2 separate regions of the Homo sapiens genome follow, and region 1 is linked to region 2. Evidence: fine-mapped expression QTL. A gene starts in region 2. The other region holds a variant in brackets. All regions are shown on one strand. Distances are between the middles of the regions.

Region 1 (9,535 bases), 120 kb after region 2:
CCTGTCATCCCAGTTCTTTGAGAGGTGGAGACAGAGTTTCATTGCCACTTTTCAATAATGTACTTGAATGTTTTAACACATGGAAAAAATGATTTAATATATTTTTGTCCATTTAATGAACTAAGTGAATATGACAATGAATGAGGTATTTACTAAACTAAAAGACAATGTGAATCTTTGCTATTGTTTCTTTAAAAGACTTGATGTGAGGCCGGGCATGGTGGCTCATGCCTGTAATCCCAGCACTTTAGGAGGCCAAGGTGGGCGGATCACATGAGGCCAGGAGTTCAAGACTCAGCCTCGCCAACACAGTGAAACCCCGTCTTTACTAAAAATACAAGAATTAGTTGGGCGTGGTGGCGTGCACCTGTAATCCCAGCTACTCAGGAGGCTGAGGCAGGAGAATTGCTTGAACCCAGGAGGCGGAGGTTGCAGTGAGCCAAGATCACGCCACTGCACTCCAGCCTGGGTGACAAAAGCGAAATTCCATCTCAAAAAACAAAACAAAACGAAAAGACTTGATGTGGGCACAGCTGTGATCCCAGCTCTTGGAAGACTGAGGTGGGAGGATCACTTGAGCCCAGGAGTTCAAGACCAGCCAGGACAACATAGTGAGACCCTGTCTCTACAAAAAAATAAATTTAAAAAAAATTAGCTGGGCACAGTGTCATGCAGCTGTAGTCCCAGGTACCCAGGAAGCTGAGGTGAGAGGATTGCTTGAGCCCAGGACATCAATGAGCCCTGATTGTGCCACTGTACTCCGGCCTGAGCAACAGAGTAAGACCCTGTCTCAAAAAAACAATTTTTTTAATTAAAGAAAAAAATAATTGGCTGGGTGTGGTGGCTCACACCTGTAATCCCAGCACTTTGGGAGGCCGAGGCAGGCAGATCACCTGAGGTCGGGAGTTTGAGACTAGCCTGACCAACATGGAGAAACCCCCATCTCCACTAAAAATACAAAATTAGCCGGGCGTGGTGGCGTGTGCCTATAATCCCAGGTACTCAGTAGGCTGAGGCAGGAGAATCGCTTGAACCCGGGAGGCAGAGGTTGCAGTGAGCTGAGATCGTGCCATTGCACTCCAGCCTGGGCAACAAGAGTGAAACTCCATCTCAAAAAAAAGAAAAAAAGACTCGATAATTTAGAACTTCTAAAATCTTGTATTAGACTTACGCTGTATGACTTTGCCTTCTTAAGTTTTTTTTTCATGAGATCAACTCTTTGGCCTATTATTTGGCTTGGTCAGAGAACTCTTTGTAAGTGTGTATATCCTGGCCCACACATTAGAATGATGAGATATGAAGTCATTCATATCTCAACTAATTTTAGACCTTCTTTGTCTGCTGTCATCTCTTTGAATTTTCTAATTGAATTTCTTTCACTTTTTGCTCTCATGCTTAACTCTTGAATTTAGCTTAACATACAACTGAGGATATTATTAAGTAAAATATGGATTATTTAGAGGGGTCTTCCTTAGAAAGTCTATATATGAATATGTGGTATGCTAATAGCCAGAAAGGACAAAGAAAATTAAGTTTGACACCTGTGGGTGATCATCCAAAATCAATTTTATTATCACACCCAAAAAATGCTTTGATGTAAGGAATAAATTTATTCATAAAAGGGGACTATATTAAAGGGAAATACTTTATTTATATTAAGTATATTTTGCAAATGCAATGCAGCTACTAACTATAGAAGTAAAAGACTTTTCTGTCCAGTGCTTTGGAGGAGATAAAGATGTATAAGACATCATTCATATCTGAAATGAACTTTTAATCTAGTAAAGGAACTGTGTATATAATTAACTATGATGCAAAGCAATTTATACTGAGGACTATTAGAGAAACAGATCCCTTTCAGTTGGGAGCCTTGAGGAGGGTTGATAAAAGAAGCCGAGAGGTCAAGCAGCAACGACCCATTTTCAGGTTCCTCCTCATAACTGTCCAAAATTTAATATTTGGTACCTTCACCAGCAAATGCAATCATATAGGTTAAATGTATTCGCTTTTAGTTTGGTAAATTTCCTCTAAGATAAGTTTTCTGCGACTTGTTTAATGCTTCTGTATGCTATTTATTCTCTTTGCATTTTGAACACATTGCATTATTCTGTTAATCTTGGACAGCAAAGCACAATGGATTAATAGGGCAAATAATTAGTAACACATTGGGTGGTACAAACAGAAAAATGCATAAGTTTTTCTCACCAAAGATTTGACTTATTTAAATATCAGTATTCAAAGTGTCAAATGTTTGAACTCATTGATAAGAGCAGAAAATATTGATGTTGTATGTTTTCTTTACAAAGCACTGACCTAATTGCTTTTTAGAATCTGGTGGTGGTGGTTTTTGTTTTTTCTAAACTCAATTTCATCCCCATTAGAATATCCAAAACCAAATCCAAATCTAGTTGACACCTAAACAGTAGAATGTTACATTAGTTTGTGACCCAAAGTGAAATTAATCCCCTAGATGCACACAAACTGGCCTGGCTGGCCGGTTTTACAGTCCACTGCTGCCTTCACTTCAGATTATGTAAACACGTGTTGTGAAACAGCTCTGACGGGAACCTTATAACCTAAACATTGTTCTCTGAAATGTAATTTGTTGTCTTTTATATAAAAGAAGAAATTAAATCAAAGATAATTTGAAGGAAAACAACTCTGGGATTTTGTTTAATTGAATTTTGCTGGGAAATATTATTGCTTGGTAGCACTGGCCCCAAGGTCAGGAAGAAGCTGGGTTCCATCTTTCGCCGGGTCAAACTTCTCAAGTGACTTTGCCCCTGTGCCTCACATCAGGCCCCAAGGAGCCCCGCAAAGTGTTCTGATCCTAAAGAAAGGCATTACATTATGTTAACTGAAACCTAAAATGACTATATCTTTAGGACAATATACTGTTGTGACCTCTCCCTCTAAGAATATTTCCGATGAATGTTAAGTAGAGCCTAGTTCCTGGAAGAGCTTGATGTCCTAATCCTCCAGAGCCACTTAAGCCAATAGAGGGCTCTAATTTTCCCCCTTCTCTAAGTACTATTACTTCTTCCCCAGTATTATTTTTATGTTCCATCTCTTCGGCAAAAATAAAATAAGGCTATGTCTTTTTCAACTTCTCTATTCTCTTTTGAGATGGAGTCTCGCTCTGTTACCCAGGCTGGAGTACAGTGGTGCAATCTTGGCTCACTGCAACTTCCACCTCCCGAGTTTAAGCAATTCTCCTGCTTCAGCCTCCCAAGTAGATGGAATAACAGGAGCCAGCCACCACAACCAGCTAATTTTTGTGTTTTCAGTAGAGACGGGGTTTTGCCATGTTGGCCAGGCTGGTCTCTCTCAAACTCCTGACCTCAAGTGACCCACCCCAGCTCAGCTTTGCGGAGTGCTGGGATTACAGGCCTGAGCCACTGCGCCTGGCCATTCTTACTTATCTCAGGCCATAAAGTACAGGCCTGCGATGGGGATGGGAAATTGCTCACACTCCAGATTTTTCCTCCTTTGGCTCTCTCTCAATCCCAAGTGATCCTATTGTTTGGTCATAGTAGGCACTCAATATACACTTGTTTAATCAATTAATTAACTAGTCAGGATTCTTTATGGAAAATAATAAGGTAATTGCTATTATCTAGGATGTTGTTCCATAGCCCCAAAACCATTACAAAATAAAATTGGGGTCAGCAGGTTCAATATTAGTCATTCAGTCAATAACTAAGTACTGACTGGTTGCCAGACCTTATGCTAAGCACTGAGCATACAGTGGTGAACAAGCCAGATGTGGCTCTGACACTTTAATATCCCTCACCAACCTCTAGGCATCAACAACCAGGTCATCCTTCCAGGTGTCACCGAAATGCCAGGCTATTGCCCCTTCCTGCTGCCTGTCTCAACTGAATGCTGTGCTGTGGCCACATCATACACATGTTTTGAAGAGAAGAATATAGGACAATGTTGCAGTAAGTAGGTCTCTGTAAAGTGAATCATTTTTATCAAAATAAAACTGCTTTTAAAAAGTTAGAGCTGGGTGCCGTAGCTTGCACTTGTAATCCCAGGTACTCAGGAGGCTGAGGTGGGAGGATCACTTGAGGCCAGGAGTTTGAGACCAGCTTGTGCAACATAATGAGACGCTGTCTCTGAAAATAATAACAGAAAGTTAACCAGGCATGGTGACACACTTGCCTGTAGTCCTAGCTACTTAGGAGGCCAAAGCGAGAGGATCGCTTGAGGCCAGGAGTTCAAGGCTGCAATGAGCTGTGATTGTACTACTGCACTCCAGCTTGGGTGACAGAGCAAAAAAAAAAAACGACAACAAAAAACCTAGGTTAATGATAATCACATAAGGTTATGTGGTCACAGAATGAACATGAATGACGTTTTATGGGGGATTCTAAGTGACTCATTTATGTTATTACTTTATTATTTAACAGATTTTTCTAAAAAGATGTCTGTCTAAGATAAATCATGGAAAAGAAGACTTGTAGAAATATAGCTACAGTCAACCCATTAAATCAAGAACCTACCGACGGAGAACCTTTAGGATAGGTGAGAAAGATCCTTGGTGAAAGGGGTAGATTCAGGTTTTGTGGGGCCTGAGGCTTATACAGTTTGGAGTTATCTCTTTAAGGAGATACACAACATTAGGAGTCCCAAATTAGAAAGGAGGCCGACCGGGTGCAGTGGCTCACACCTGTAATCCCAGCACTTTGGGAGGCCAAGGCGGGCGGATCAGCTGAGGTCAGGAGTTCAAGACCAGCCTGGCCAACATGGCAAAACCCAGACTCTATTAAAAATACAAAAATTAGCCAGGCATGGATGATGGCGGGTGCCTGTAATCCCTGCTATTCAGGAAGTTGAGGCAGGAGAATCGCTTGAACCCAGGAGGCAGACGTTGCAGTGAGCTGAGATCGCACCACTACACTCCAGCCTGGGCAACAAGAGTGAGACTCCGTTTAAAAAAAAAAAAAAAAAA[AG/G]GAGCCCATGCAAGTGAGGAGCCTTGACAGCAGCTTTAAGGCAAACCATCCACAAACCACTCTGCGCAGGGGCAACTGGAAGGAATGTTAGAAGGAGGAATAAGAAGAAATGTTTCAGTCACCTTGTTTGATTATGTCAAGCTCTGAGTTTCTCCACTACCTTTAAGAACTGCAACTTTTACCAAACCTAAGCATTATTTCTGGAACAGTTAAATTGGATTTAGCAAAATAGCATGGGATACAAATTCAGTAATGGTTGAGATCAAAGTAGGACATTTTTCTTTTTTAGATTGGAAAGTTTTTACCTGGGTATGGGTCTTTTAAGAGATACTTTCAGCAATATTGAAGAATTCAAAGAACGGTTTAATTTTCAAAGAGTTTCTAGTATTAGTCTATCTTAGCGATGAGGAACCTTTTAAGGGCTCTTGACGCATAAAACAAACAACCAAGAGCAACATTAGAGTAAGGCAACATTTCTTTATACTCCACCTTGTTCCAGAAAGGATCTAATTCTACTGCACGAAAGTGCCCAGCTTTAAAGGATTAATGTTAAGTTTTTTTTAGAAACTAAATTAGAAATTTATGACACTCCTTGAGGAGAGGAAACTAAGACTTAATTCACATAAATAATTTTATCACTCCTCGGTGCTGTATTATATATAAAACCTTTATTGCAGATAGATTAAAGCCCAATCCAATGCAGTAAACTTTTACTCATTGTCCTAGAGTTGGAAATGCAAAGATAGAGCCATCATTTCTAGTGCTGCCAGAGTTATCTTTAATTAATATGAAACTGACTATGCCTTTCTCTGTAAAATCCTTCAGTGCCCCAGTAGAAAAATAGGCACAGGGCTGAACATGGTGGCTCACATCTGTAATCCTAACACTTTGAGAGGCCAAGGCAGGAGGATCACTTGAGCCCAGGAGTTCAAGACCAGCTTGGGCAACATATCAAGACCTCATCTCTCCTAAAAATTAAAAAATTTGCCAGGCATGGTGGCATGTGTCTGCAGTCCTGCATCCAGAGTTGGTTCCTTCCAGTGGGTTCTTGGTCTCGCTGACTTCAAGAATGAAGGTGCGGACCTTTGCGGTGAGCATTACAGCTCTTAAAGGTTGCACAGATCCAGAGTGAGCAGATTTATTGTGAAGAGCCAAAGAACAAAGCTTCCACAGCGTGAAAGGGGACCCAAGCAGGTTGCCGCTGCTGACTGGGGCGGCCAGCTTTTATTCCCTTATTTGTCCCCATCCATGTCCTGCTGATTGGTCCATTTTACAGAGCACTGATTGGTCCATTTTACAGGGTGCTGATTGGTCCATTTTACAAACCTCTAGCTAGCTACAGAAAAGTTCTTCAAGTCCCCCTCCTGACCCAGAAGTCCAGCTGGCTTCACCTCTCAATCCCCCCTCTAAACATGACACCCCAACTACTGTTGGGAATTGGGCAATGACCACTCTAGCTACTTCTGCTGGATAGGGGCGAAGAAGGGGCCCTGCAGTGGTAGTGTCCTCCAGAGGGGAACTCTCTAGGCCAGTCAAAGATCCAGGGGTCCTCAGTAGAAGTTTTGAGTTGAGCTCATTTGGGGTTCCATTTGTAAGACCATCTGTAGCTTGATGGCCTCCATCCTGGAGGAAACAAATTTGACAAGCAGGTTAAAAATACAGGGCCCGAAGGTGAGTAATAGCAAGATGGCTGTCACGGGACCTAGAAAGGGGAGAAGCCATGTTGCCCAACTCCAGAGGTTGGTATAAGAGTTTGAAAGGTGTTGTCTGATTCAGAAGCCTTTTCCTGTAAATGCCAGGCAGTGTCTCATACTATCCCTGACTGGTTAGTGTAAAAGCAACACTCTTCCCCTAAGAAGGTGCACAGTCCTCCTTTCTCAGCAGTGAGGAGGTCTAGGCCTTGGCGGTTTTGGAGAGTTACTGCTGCCAAAGAGTCTATTTGGGATTGTAGAGTAAGGATAGATTTTGTTATTTCTTGTAAACTGTCAGAAATCTTTTGAGAGTGTGTGGTAGTAGGATAGTGAAGTAGATAAACTGGCTATTCTGGTTCCTGTAGCAGTGGCCATTCCTAACCCTTTAAGTAGGGGTATTAGTTGTATGGCTCTGTGCTAACTGACTTGAGCTTTGAGGGGTACTGATAGGGTCTGATTTCCACAAGCTTTGAAGTTAGGATAACACATTTTATACTGTTAACTTTTAGCAAACTTTACTTCTGTTGAAAACCTTGTAAGTTTGGGATATCAATTATTCTTTGCTATTAATAAGACCTCATTCAGTCCATATTAACTTAAAATTGGTATAGATGGCTCCTTCCTGATTCTGTAAGTACTTTAAGGTTTAGCTGAGGGCAAACAGCTTGCGTGTTTGAGCAGATCAATTATTAGGCAATTTTCCTAACTCTGCTTTTACAAGAGTTTCCTTATCACTTACTGAATACCCATTGTGTCTTTTTCCCTTAATTGCCTGAGAGGAACCATCTATCTTCCTGTCCTGAAGGGAGTTCTTCCTAAGTCTGGTCGGACCTTTGTATAGTAATTAACTAAGATTTAGATCCCCTGTTAGGAAACCTGCTGGGTTAAGGATTTTTGATAGGAAGGCTATGGGCTGTCAGTGCCTCAGTGTTTTTGGGCTACGCCCTTGTTTACACTGACAACAAGGTGGTAATGGAGTGTTATGGAGTGTCATGGAGAAGACATTCAATTATCAATTATAGGTTTTAAATTTACCCTGGCTTTTAAAGGAATAGGGTACACTGTTTTTTCTTTACTACTTCTATCTCTCTTTCTCTCTCTCTGACTCCTTGTCTGTCTCTCTCTTTCTCTCTGACTTCCTCTTTGTCTCTGTCTCTTCCTCTCTTTCCTTCTCTCTTTGACTTTCTGTCCTCCCCCCCATTCTCTTTGACTTTCTGTTTTTGCCCTCTCTCTCTCTCTCTCTCTCTGACTCCCTCTTTGTCTCTCTGTCGTTAAGCACCCCGAGGGGAGACAACTATGCCCCCGTGAAAGTCCCCATTCTGTTTCAGTCGGGAATACTGGGGCTTAATCTGTTGGAGAGGGTTGTTCTATACCAAGGGTCCTTCCGTAGGTATTTCCGATGGGAGGTTCTGCCTGGCAGCAATTTTGGCCTCAGCATCTGCCCGATGGTTTCCTTCTGCCTTTTCTTCTTCACCTTTTTGATGGCTTTGGCAGTGTAAGACTGCCAGCTCCTTGGGTTTTTGCACTGCATGCAACAGCTTCATGATTTCCTTGTGGTATTTAACGGAGGTTCCCCCAGATGTTAGGAATTCCTTTTCCATATTGCAGCATGGGCACGTAGGATTAGATAAGCATACTTGCTATCTGTATACACATTTATCCTTTTTCCCTTTCCCAGTTCTAAGGCTCAGGTAAGTGCCACTAGTTCTGCTAACTAGGCACTGGTTCCTCGGGGAAGAGGCTTACTTTTGAGTACTGTTACATTACTAACTATGGCATAACATCACTAACTATGGCATAACCTGCCTTCCGTATCCGATTATCCACAAATCAACTTCCATCGGTATATAAGATTAGGATTAGCTAAGGGGACTTCTAAGAGATCCTCTCCGGTGGCATAAGTCTGGACTATAATTTGTTGGCAGTCATGCTTGATTGGTTCTCCATCCTCTCGGAGAAAAGTGGCAGGGTTGAGGGCCGCACACATGTGTATTTGAAGCACCGGTCCCTCAAGGAATAGCGCCTGGTATCTAAGCAGGCGGTTGCCTGATAGCCATAAACTTCCTTTGGCACCTATGCCATTTACATCATTAGTAGTCCAGACGGTGAGATCCTTTCCTTGCATTAGTTTGATAGCCTTTGATACTAAGATGGCCACCGCTGCAACTACCTGTAAACGGTGAGGCCAGCCTTTTGCTACTGTATCAATTTCCTTACTTAGGTATGCCACTGGTTGCGGGGTTGTCCCACAAGTCTGAGTAAGGACTCAGAGCCCTTTCCCAGAAAGCCTGACACCTGTGTCTTTAGTCTGGTGGCCGCGCTAGTTGCTTTTAACTGGCCGACAGGTGCCCGGTGTTTAGCCCCCAGATTCTAAGGAAAAATAGGACAGAATAGCAAGCGAAAGGGGTCCAGTTGTGTCCAGAATTGGTGGGTTCTTGGTCTCACTGACTTCAAGAATGAAGCCACGGACCCTCACGGTGAGTGTTACAGTTCTTAAAGGTGGTGTTTCCGGAGTTTGTTCCTTCTGATGTTCGGACATGTTCAGAGTTTCTTCCTTCTGGTGGGCTGGTGGTCTCGCTGGCTTCAGGAGTGAAGCTGCAGACCTTCGCAGTGAGTGTTACAGCTTTTAAGGCAGCGCATCTGGAGTTGTTCATTCATCCCAGTAGGTTCATGGTCTCGCTGGCCTCAGGAGTGAAGCTGCAGACCTTCGCGGTGAGTATTACAGCTCATAAAGGCAGTGCGGACCCAAAGAGTGAGCAGCAGCAAGATTTATTGCAAATAGTGAAAGAACAAAGCTTCCGCAGTGTGGAAGGGGACCCGAGTGGGTTGTCAATGCTGGCTCCGGCAGCCTGCTTTTATTCCCTTATCTGACCCCACCAACATCCT
Region 2 (9,535 bases):
AAAAAAGGCTGGTTTTACAAGTGTTATAAAACACTCTTACACTAAAGAACTGAAAAACTTATTATTAAGCTTCAAGCTATGGAACTTAATATCCCACATACATCCAACTTACAAATTCCAAGATGAATTTTGAAAAAATACATCAAAAATAATTTCCAACAGAATTTTATCATTAAAAAAGCTTAACTGGTTGGGCGCGGTGGCTCACGCCTGTAATTCCAGAACTTTGGGAAGCCGAGGCAGCCAGATCACCTGAGGTCAGGAGTTCAAGACCAGCCTGTCCAACATGGTGTAACCCCATCTCTACTAAAAATACAAAAATTAGCCAGGCATGGTGGCGGGCACCTGTAATCCCAGCTACTCAGGAGACTGAGGCAGGAGAATCGCCTGAACCCAGGAGGTGGAGCTTGAAGGGAGCCGAGATTGCGCCACTGCACTCCAGCCTAGGTGACAGAACAAGTCTCTGTCTCAAAAAAGAAAAGAAAGAGAGAGAAAAGGGGTCACAGCAGATGAAATTAAGTTAAAGATTTTGAGATGAGATTACCCTGGATTATCGGCATGAGTCCTAATTGCCATCACAAGTGTCCTTATAATAGAGAGGCAGAGGGAAATAACACAAAGACCCACAAAGGAGGTGCAATGTGAAGACAGAGCTAAGAGATATGCAGCCACAAGCCGAGGAATGCCCTTAGCCACTAGAAGCTAGAAGAAGCAAAGATTCTGTCCCAGAACCTCCAGAGGGAGGGCAGCGCTGCTGACACCTTGATTTTTAACTTCAGGCTTCCAGAACTATGAGAATAAATTTATGTTGCTTTAAGTTACCCAGTTTGTGTTAATTTGTTATAGCAGCCACAGAAAACTAACACATTGGCCTTCTTGTTGCCCTAATACCCCAAGTTTGTTCCCTCCTCCTTCTCAAAGGTTCCTTGAGAACCTTTGCACCTGATGTCCTGCTGGGACTCCTTTAAGTCTCAGGCTCATGAGTCACTGTCTGAGAGAAGCCTTCCCTCTCCAACTAAATCCACCCCACACCAGTCTCACACACACATTTCTCTAATTTTTTATAGTACTTTTCACTATAATTATTTGGTTCTCAAACGCGCTTATTCTGTCTTCTCCAGTAAAATACAATGTAACAGCAAGCACCTTATATTCACCACTCTCTCTCCAGCACCTACTAGAACTCAAAAATATGTTGAATGAATCATAGGTCTTGTCTTTAGCTTACCTCTTAAAATACTTAGCTGTAAACCATTATTATCTCTCAAACCACCCAAATGCACCAATTCAGAAATTTCGAATGTTTAACACATAAGTGTTCTCACATGCAGCTACAAATAATCCTTTTGCATTTTGATGAACACATTTTTTTCACCTGTATTCTTACTTTCAATTTTGTAATATCATATATATGTTTATTTTCTTATCTCAACAATTATTGCTAACATTGCTACTGCTGCTTAATAAAATTATAATTGTGGATGGTCTAATTACTCAATTACTGTTTCCACTTTAACCACAAGAGATTTTGCCTTCTGAAATGTGCCACAAAAATGGCAAATAGATCAGACAGAAGTGATCACTATACAGGCTTACATTCACGGTCAGTTAACAAGAGGCCTCACAGCTAGTAAGTAAGCAACGGAATTATCTAATACACTCACCATACCCATCCATTCTAACACTCACCCCAATAAGCCTGCAGGCAACGTGCAAATGCCTAATGGTTGAGATTTCTGGACTATATAATTGCCACATTATAAAATCTTTCTTAACTTCACATCTTTCGCTGTTCTATTCCCAGGTGGTACACTCACTTTAAAATTTAGAATTGAGAAGTTCTACCCAAAATTCTATCTGTTATACTAGAACAATGACAAATTATTTCAAAATTATATAAGCGTATGTCAACATTAAGTCTCCAAATAAAGCTCCTGAGAAGCACTCAGAAAAGGATGATCACAGATAAAGCCGCTATAAAAGAGAAGGCCAGCTTTTTCTTGAAAACCAAATTCAGTTAGAACAAATCAAAATGGTGTCTTTAAAAGAAACGGAATGAAAGACTTTAGATTTGTTCTACATAAAAATGTAATGTATTCATCTCTAGTTTCTGCACTTTTTTTTTTTTTCAGACAGAGTCTTGCTCCATTGCCCAGGCTGGAGTGCAGCTGCCCGGACTTGGCTCACTGCAGTCTCCACCTCCCAATTTCAAGAGATTCTCCTGCCTCAGCCTCCCAAGTAGCTGAGGCTACTGGCGTGTGCCACCACTCCCAGCTAATTTTTTGTATTTTTAGTAGAGAAGGGGTTTTGCTATGTTGGCCAGGCTGGTCTCGAACTCCTGGCCTCAAGTGATCTGGCTGTCTCAGCCTCCCAAAGTGCTGGGATTACAGGCATGAACCACCGCACCTGGCCATCCTGCACTTTTTATTCAACCTAGGAAGGCAAATAAAGATCCTGATTGCACCATGTTCCTTCGAGTCAACTAAGCATAGAACTAATGGCACAACCAGCACAACACCAGGTGTTAAGTTTGCAGACAAATGCAAAAGATACACTACAAATTCACCCAACACAAATGTATTAAGCATCATAAGGTAGACTGGTCAACATATTCAATTTAGTATTCCCAATGTGAAGAAACTATGTTATTGAATAGCATAAAGATCCCAAAAAGGGAAATTTGAAAGATTTGACAGTCATCCTTAATTTCAGAAACCCAATGCAATAAATATGCACAACACGCTATAGTGCAGTGTGCTGCTTAAACACTTCATGAAGACAAAAATCTCAAACTAAGAAAAAAGAAATTGGACAGATGGCTATTAAGACCAGGGGGAATAAAGTATCTATCTGTGAATTAAACTTTGTGTTATAACAAATCTATTGAGAACAAGGAGGAAAAAGAATGATAAAAAATGTCCTCTGAACAAGTAATTCCATTTTTGAAAAAAATTACCAAATTAAAACAAGTAAGATGTAAACATTAATGACAATACACAGTGAGAAGCTAACACCACTGAAATTCCCACAAAAGTTGTAATATGGAATAGTTAGTGCTGAAGTGTCAAGAAAGATGGATTCAAAAGTTACTGTTATATGGCTGGGTGTGGTGGCCCATGCCTGTAATCCCAGCACTTTGGGAGGCCAAAGTGGGAGGATCACCTGAGGTCAGGAGTTTGAGACCAGCCTGGCCAACATAGTGAAACCCTGTGTCTACTAAAAATACAAAAAAAAAAAAAAAAAAATTAGCGGGGCGTGGTGGCACACACGTGTAGTCCCAGCTACTTGGGAGGCTGAGGCAGGAAAATCGCTTGAACCTAGGAGGCAGAGGTTGCAGTGAGCTGAGACTGCACCACTGCACTCCAGCCTGGGCAATAGAGTGAGACTCCATCTCAAAAAAAAAAAAAAATTACTGTTATATACTATCATCAAAACTATATAAAACATGTTTGGGCTGGGCACGGTGGCTCATGACTGTAATCCAGCATTTTGGAAGGCCCAGGTGAGTGAATCACCTGAGATCAGGAGTTCAAGACCAGCCTGGCCAACATGGGGAAACCCCATCTCTACTAAAAATACAAAAATTAGCTGGGCGTGGTGGCATGCGCCTGTAGTCTCGCTGAGGGAGGTTGAGGCAGGAGAATTGCTTGAACCCAGAAGGCAGAGGCTGCAGTGAGCCCACACTGCATGAGTGCACTCCAGCCTGGGTGACAGAGCAAGACACTGTATCAAAAACAAACAAAAAATGTTTGGAAAAAACAGAAGAAAATTGACTAAAAATTTTAACAGGAGTGCTTGTCTATTGGGCAAGATTTGTAGGTGACTTTCTCCACTTTTCCCAAAAAAGCTATATTTTTATTATGAGAAGAGAACTATAAAAAGATAACACAGTCCAGGTGCAATGGCTTGCGCCTGTAATCCCAACACTTTGAGAATGTCGCCTGAACTCAGGAGTTGGAAACCAGTCTGGGCAATATAGTGAGACTTCATCTCTACAAAAATTTTAAAAAATAAAAAAAAAGGTAACATGTTATTTCTTTTAAAAAGTTCCAAGAAAAGAAACATGATAAATTTATATTAGTATTTTGGGTATTTTAATATAAACTTCACATATAGATCAAATTCAACTAAGACAAAAGATTGCATATTTTATATTTTTGTCTAAAATAAGAACTTCCACTAAGGCAAAACTTGAAATCAGAAAGTGTCAGAACTGACATACACTCAAACTGGAAATTCTGAAGGGGAACAAAAAAATCAACTTGTAGAGACACCATATAGTAAGTAACACATGCAAAAATAATCTATTATCTTTTAAAGTACCTTCTATTCATCTTTTTAAAGCCAATTTCCAAGTCAGAACTGAAGCCCAAAAAACTTACCCCACTGTCCCCTAAATTACAATGTAACTCCCCAAATGCCATTAAGAAAAAAGATCTGAAGATTCATACAAACTGATGTTACCAACTCAATCAGCCTAGTATCATTTATCCTGAGAACCCTCCTTGCACAAAATCAATTTTCAGAATTTAAAATATCTCCCAAAACGTAATTATTGTTTTCAATTTTCCATACAAGCGTCTTTCACTGATATCAACCACATTTGCCCAAGTTTGCTTTCACCTGAGGAAGTCCTAAATCATTGAGATTTAAATTAGGTCATTAATATTTTTACATCTATTTTAGCTTTTAATTATCAAATTGCCTCAAGCTATTGTATCCTATACGAGGCTTAGGTTGTCTCTTATTCCCCATATAATAGTTAATAACAATCACATGGAGATAAACACTGACACAGACTGTATAATTTAGAACTCTCACCACAGTGATTTTCAACTTTGATAAAATCCGTAGCATTTAATAACTAAACTTTAAATGTTATTACCTTCTCAAATATGGGAACATAGGAAGACATATGAGGGTTGATTTCTGCTTCCCAATCTTCATCTCCCATGGTGGCTTCAAGTTCTATTCATAAAAAAAAAAAAATGCACATTTGGACTCAATTAGATCAGAATCATAACTTTAAAAGCATAAACTCATTGTTTCACATACATCTTGAAACTACCCAACTAGGTGCTGATACCCCAAAAGTTTTTTCCAAAGAAGGAATTAGGTCTCTTCTTATCTAAAGGTGGCATTTATCTCCATCCTTTCTTAGCTTTAGAAACTAGTTGAACCTCTTACCTAGTCATTCTAGCAATCGCCATGTCCCCAGCAAGACTTAGGCTTTTCCCAAACATCTGTTCATAGACTTTATCTCCTCCCTCAAAGGGTCCCCAAACGACTTACTGAATATTAAGGGAGAGGCAACTTTTTTCAGAAACTACTTAAGATTTCTCCCTTCGCATGATTAACATCCAAGGTGGATAGGATGTTTGCTTTGGGGTGTTTGTGGCGTGCGTGGGGGCGGGGACAGGGGTACGGGAGTCGACTGGGTAGGGGGGCGGCGACTCGGTGAAGAGGGAGGCCTTGGATTTTAGTGGGGAAGGGAAGAAGGGTATGGTTGCCCAAATCCTGCCGACAAAGGACAACCAGCTTCATCAAGAAGGATTTGTACACAAATGGTACTCGGACCATGTCTGTTCAGAGAAAACGCAGTGAAGAAGCCAGGAATAAGGCCCCTTCGCCTCCTCTGCAGGCCTCAAGCCCAGACTTTGGGCACCCGTGGGACTCTGAGACCCCGAGGCAGAAAGGCTTCGAAGGACGGCTTCAAAACTCCTCCTACTCCATCCACACTTTGGCCAAAGGTCGGTTACTGGGGAGCCCGTACGGCCGAGTTCAGGCCAGTTCCCGTAGAAAAGCGGCCCACTCACCTCTCCGCGGCTTGCTCTCCCAAGCCCTCGCAGGCGCCCACGCGACTTAAACGGCTGCACGTGCAAGACGCCCACTGCGTCAGGTGCGTGGCTCCAACAACAAATGGCGTCTGTTGACGATTGGCTGGTGACTAGCGCCACCAGCCAATCAGCGCTCAGACGACCAGTGGCGTCCCGCCTCCACTTCTAGCCTGCGGATTCCCTAAACGCTAGCGTTCGGGCCCCTATGGCGACGCTCTGGCCTCATAGCCAAGTGGCCTGTTGGGCCTGTGGGTACAAGGCTGGCTGAGGGCCTACTTGTGTCCACGTTCTCTCGTGGGATCCTTATTCTGGAGACGCTCTGGATTTTCCTTGTGCAAGCTTCGCAAGCTAAATATGTCCACCTGCCTTTTTCTAACAAAAAATAATAATAAAAGGGGAAAGGGATAATGTCCTCCCTACTTGGCCTCTTTAGTGCTCTCTCCCCTTTTACCCATCACAGTCCATGGGTTGGCCCCTCGGGTTCTGCATTTCAGAGACTCGCTCCACATCCGGGGATTCCAGGTGCCTCAAAGTGCAGCTGAGGCTCATGGAGGAGGTGCATTCCCTTTTCCTCCCAGTAAGGGGGGCAGGGATGAGACTCCGTCCAGCTGGGACCCCAGGAAATCGTAAAGAAAGTTAGACTCGGCTGGGCATGGTGACTCACGCCTGTAATCCCAGCACTTTGGGAGGCCGAGGCGGGCGGATCACATGAGGCTAGGAGTTCGAGACCAGCCTAGCCAACATGGTGAAACCCCGTCTCTACTAAAATTAAAAAAATTAGCCGGGTATGGTGGCGGCTGCCTGTAGTCCCAGCTACTCAGGAGGCTGAGGCAAGAGAACCGCTTGAACCCGGGAGGCAGAGGTTGCAATGAACCGAGATCATGCCATTGATCTCTACCTGGGCGACAGAGTGAGACAGAGGAAAAAAAAAAAAAAAAAAAAGCCTGTAAGATTTCGGGGGTCCACCACTTTGGAAGGAAACAGGCTCTGATCCAGAAGGAGGGAGGAAATTGGTGCTGGCATAGGTCATTCATCAAGGCTTGGATTTGTGGCCCACCTGTTTATATTCCTACGGGCACTAGCCAAAGTGGCCAAGGGTTATTTTGATACTTCATGCTGTCTTCAATCAGATTTTCTTGTTCTGCCCCCACCCCCCACCCCAAAAGCAGGTAAAATCCCTCAGTATTTCCCCAGCCCTTCAAAACGCGTGACCATGGGCTGTTTTAAAAGTGTAGTTCTCAGAGGCCGGGCGCGGTGGCTTACGTCTGTCTGTAATCCCAGCACTTGGGGAGGCCGAAGCGGGCGGATCACGAGGTCAGGAGATGCAACCATCCTGGCTAACACGGCGAAACCCCGTCTCTACTAAAAATACAAAAAATTAGCCGGGCGTGGTGGCGGGCGCCTGTAGTCCCAGCTACTCCAGAGGTTGAGGCAGGAGAATGGCGTGAACCCGGGAGACGGAGCTTGCAGTGAGCCGAGATCGCGCGACTGCACTCCAGCCTGGGCCTCAGACCGAGACTCCGCCTCAAAAAAAAAAAAAAAAAAAAAAAGTGTAGTTCTCATTTTTGTTGTCGTTTCTGTCATTTTCCCTTCTCTGAATCTGAAGAAATTCCTATCTCATTCAGGAACATAAATAGCAACACAGTTTGATACTGGTACATAAAGGATAAAGCACTTAATAGGCTCAGGCTTGCTTCATACTTTTTATCTCTAGAACCATCACCACCAAGAATTTCAGGATTCATCTAGTTAGCAATAAACTTTGTCAGACTATTCTCAAGATGATCAAAATGAATATATTTTTTATTTATTTATTTATTTATTTTTGAGACAAGGTCTCACTCTGTCACCCAGAGGGGAGTGCACTAATGATCATAGCTTACTGCAGCCTCAACCTCCTGTGCTCAAGTGATCCTGCCACCTCAGCCTCCCGAATAGCTGGGACTACAGGCACAAGCCACCATGCCCAGCTAATTTTTAAAAAAAATTTTGTAGAGAAAGAGTCTCCCTGTGTTGCCCAGGCTGGTCTCCAATTCCGGGCCTCAAGTGAGCCTCCTGCCTCAGCCTCCCAAGAGTCTCCCTGTGTTGCCCAGGCTGGTCTCCAATTTCTGGCCTCAAGTGAGCCTCCTGCCTCAGCCTCCCAAAGTGCTGGGATTACAGCCATAAGCTGCCACACCCAACCTTAAAAGATTATATTTAGGCTGGGCACAGAGGCTCACGCCTGTAATCCCAGCACTTTGGGAGGCTGAGGCAGGTGGATCACGAGGTCAAGAGATCAAGACCATTCTGGCTAACACGGTGAAACCCCGTCTCTACTGAAAATACAAAAAATTAGCCGGGTGTGGTGGCACGCACCCATAGTCCCAACTACTTCGGAGGCTGAGGCAGGAGAATAGCTTGTTCAAACCCAGGAGGCAGAGATTGCAGTGAGCTGAGATCGCGAGACTCGGCTCAAAAAAAAAAAAAAAAAGATTATATTTAACAAAGGCCAAACCAAAATACAGTTTGATATAATTCATTTTAAATAATTTCCATTTTTAAACCAAATTTTCACATCACATACCCTCAAGGCATGGTGGAGGACAGCAACCAATCTTCAAGGTTCTGAATTTGTATTCCTCTGAGGTATTTTAATTCAATTCAATTGAATTAAATTAATTCAATTCAAATTAGAGATTGTTCCTGCAAAATTTTTAATTCTATGGGAAAATATTTACTAAGCAGAAAAAGCAAGATATAAAATCATGTAGAGAGAATGACAACTAGGTTTTTTTTCAAGTATGGAAAACTTGGGCAAATTTTCTAAAATGAAGACATTTTTTAAAATCACTTAGCAAACATTCTCTGCTATTCACTCACTTGGAGAGTACAGATTCTTGTTGCTTTCAGGTATTGCAATAAAATGACTTAATGAAAAAGTCTGCATGTATAGTGTGTGAGAGGAATCCTTGGTTAAGAAAAAGCGAATTCTGATGAGAACTGAAGTTCAATATTGAGGAAAGGATAAATAAGCAGTGCATAAAAATAATATAATTCAAATATTGACCATGAATAGTGAAAAAAGACAGTTTTGTAAAGATTTGCTCCTTCATGTGTGTTCCAAGAAAGTGAAACTAATATTCTATTTTCTGATTCCCTCTTATAGATCTTAACTTGGTGTTAGTGATATTCTGTAACATAGAGAAAAGGTAGGAATTCGCTTAGTTGTAAAATAAGCCTTAAATGAGCACCTACTATACACCAGGTACCAGGCTAGGTGCTAAGTAAAATTGGCCCATATCTCAAGCAACATTCTAGTGGAAAGAATGGCAGTGGCAACTGGAATTTAAAATCTTCAGACTGCTGTGTCAAATGATTAACTAGAAAGCTTAGGTGAAAAAAAAAACTTTATTGTATACAGTTTCCTCCAAATTCTCTAAATCCCATTTTTAGAAGGACGGATTAAAGCAAAACAATTTCCTCAAAGAAGTCTCAGTTTTAAATCAAAGTTTGTAGTTAAGACCCTTCACACTTTTGAAACACTGAATTCTCAAAGTTAATACAAATAGAGAGAACTGATATTTTAGTCTTTTTATATTTTCAGCATTATCTTCGTCTTATTCAAATAATGATTTTTTATTGATGTGGATTGTGTCTAGCGTCATGTCGACACTGTTAAAAATTCTTTTAATCCACCAGTAGGCCAAAATTAATCACCT

Direction of the effects. Positions count from the first base shown, and alleles are read on the strand shown. Sizes are in standard deviations (SD) of each study's normalised expression.
For the expression in prefrontal cortex of the gene that starts at base 5,857 in region 2, G is the high allele of the variant in region 1 and AG is the other (moderate effect, 0.47 SD a copy in CommonMind).

The links. PIP is the estimated chance that this variant, and not a neighbour inherited with it, causes the effect.
Region 1: its variant is fine-mapped to the expression of DDX4 in prefrontal cortex (CommonMind, PIP 0.92).

The regions. Positions count from the first base shown.
Region 1 is chr5:55,614,395-55,623,929 of GRCh38, reverse strand. No RefSeq gene overlaps it. Among named protein-coding and RNA genes, the nearest start is that of PLPP1, 84 kb to the right of the region's middle. The variant AG/G (reference allele first, on the strand shown) is at 4,958.
Region 2 is chr5:55,734,383-55,743,917 of GRCh38, reverse strand. It overlaps DDX4 (DEAD-box helicase 4), which reads right to left and starts at 5,857. Exons shown (of 22, transcript NM_024415.3): 1 at 5,817-5,857; 2 at 4,886-4,968. The coding sequence starts at 4,954.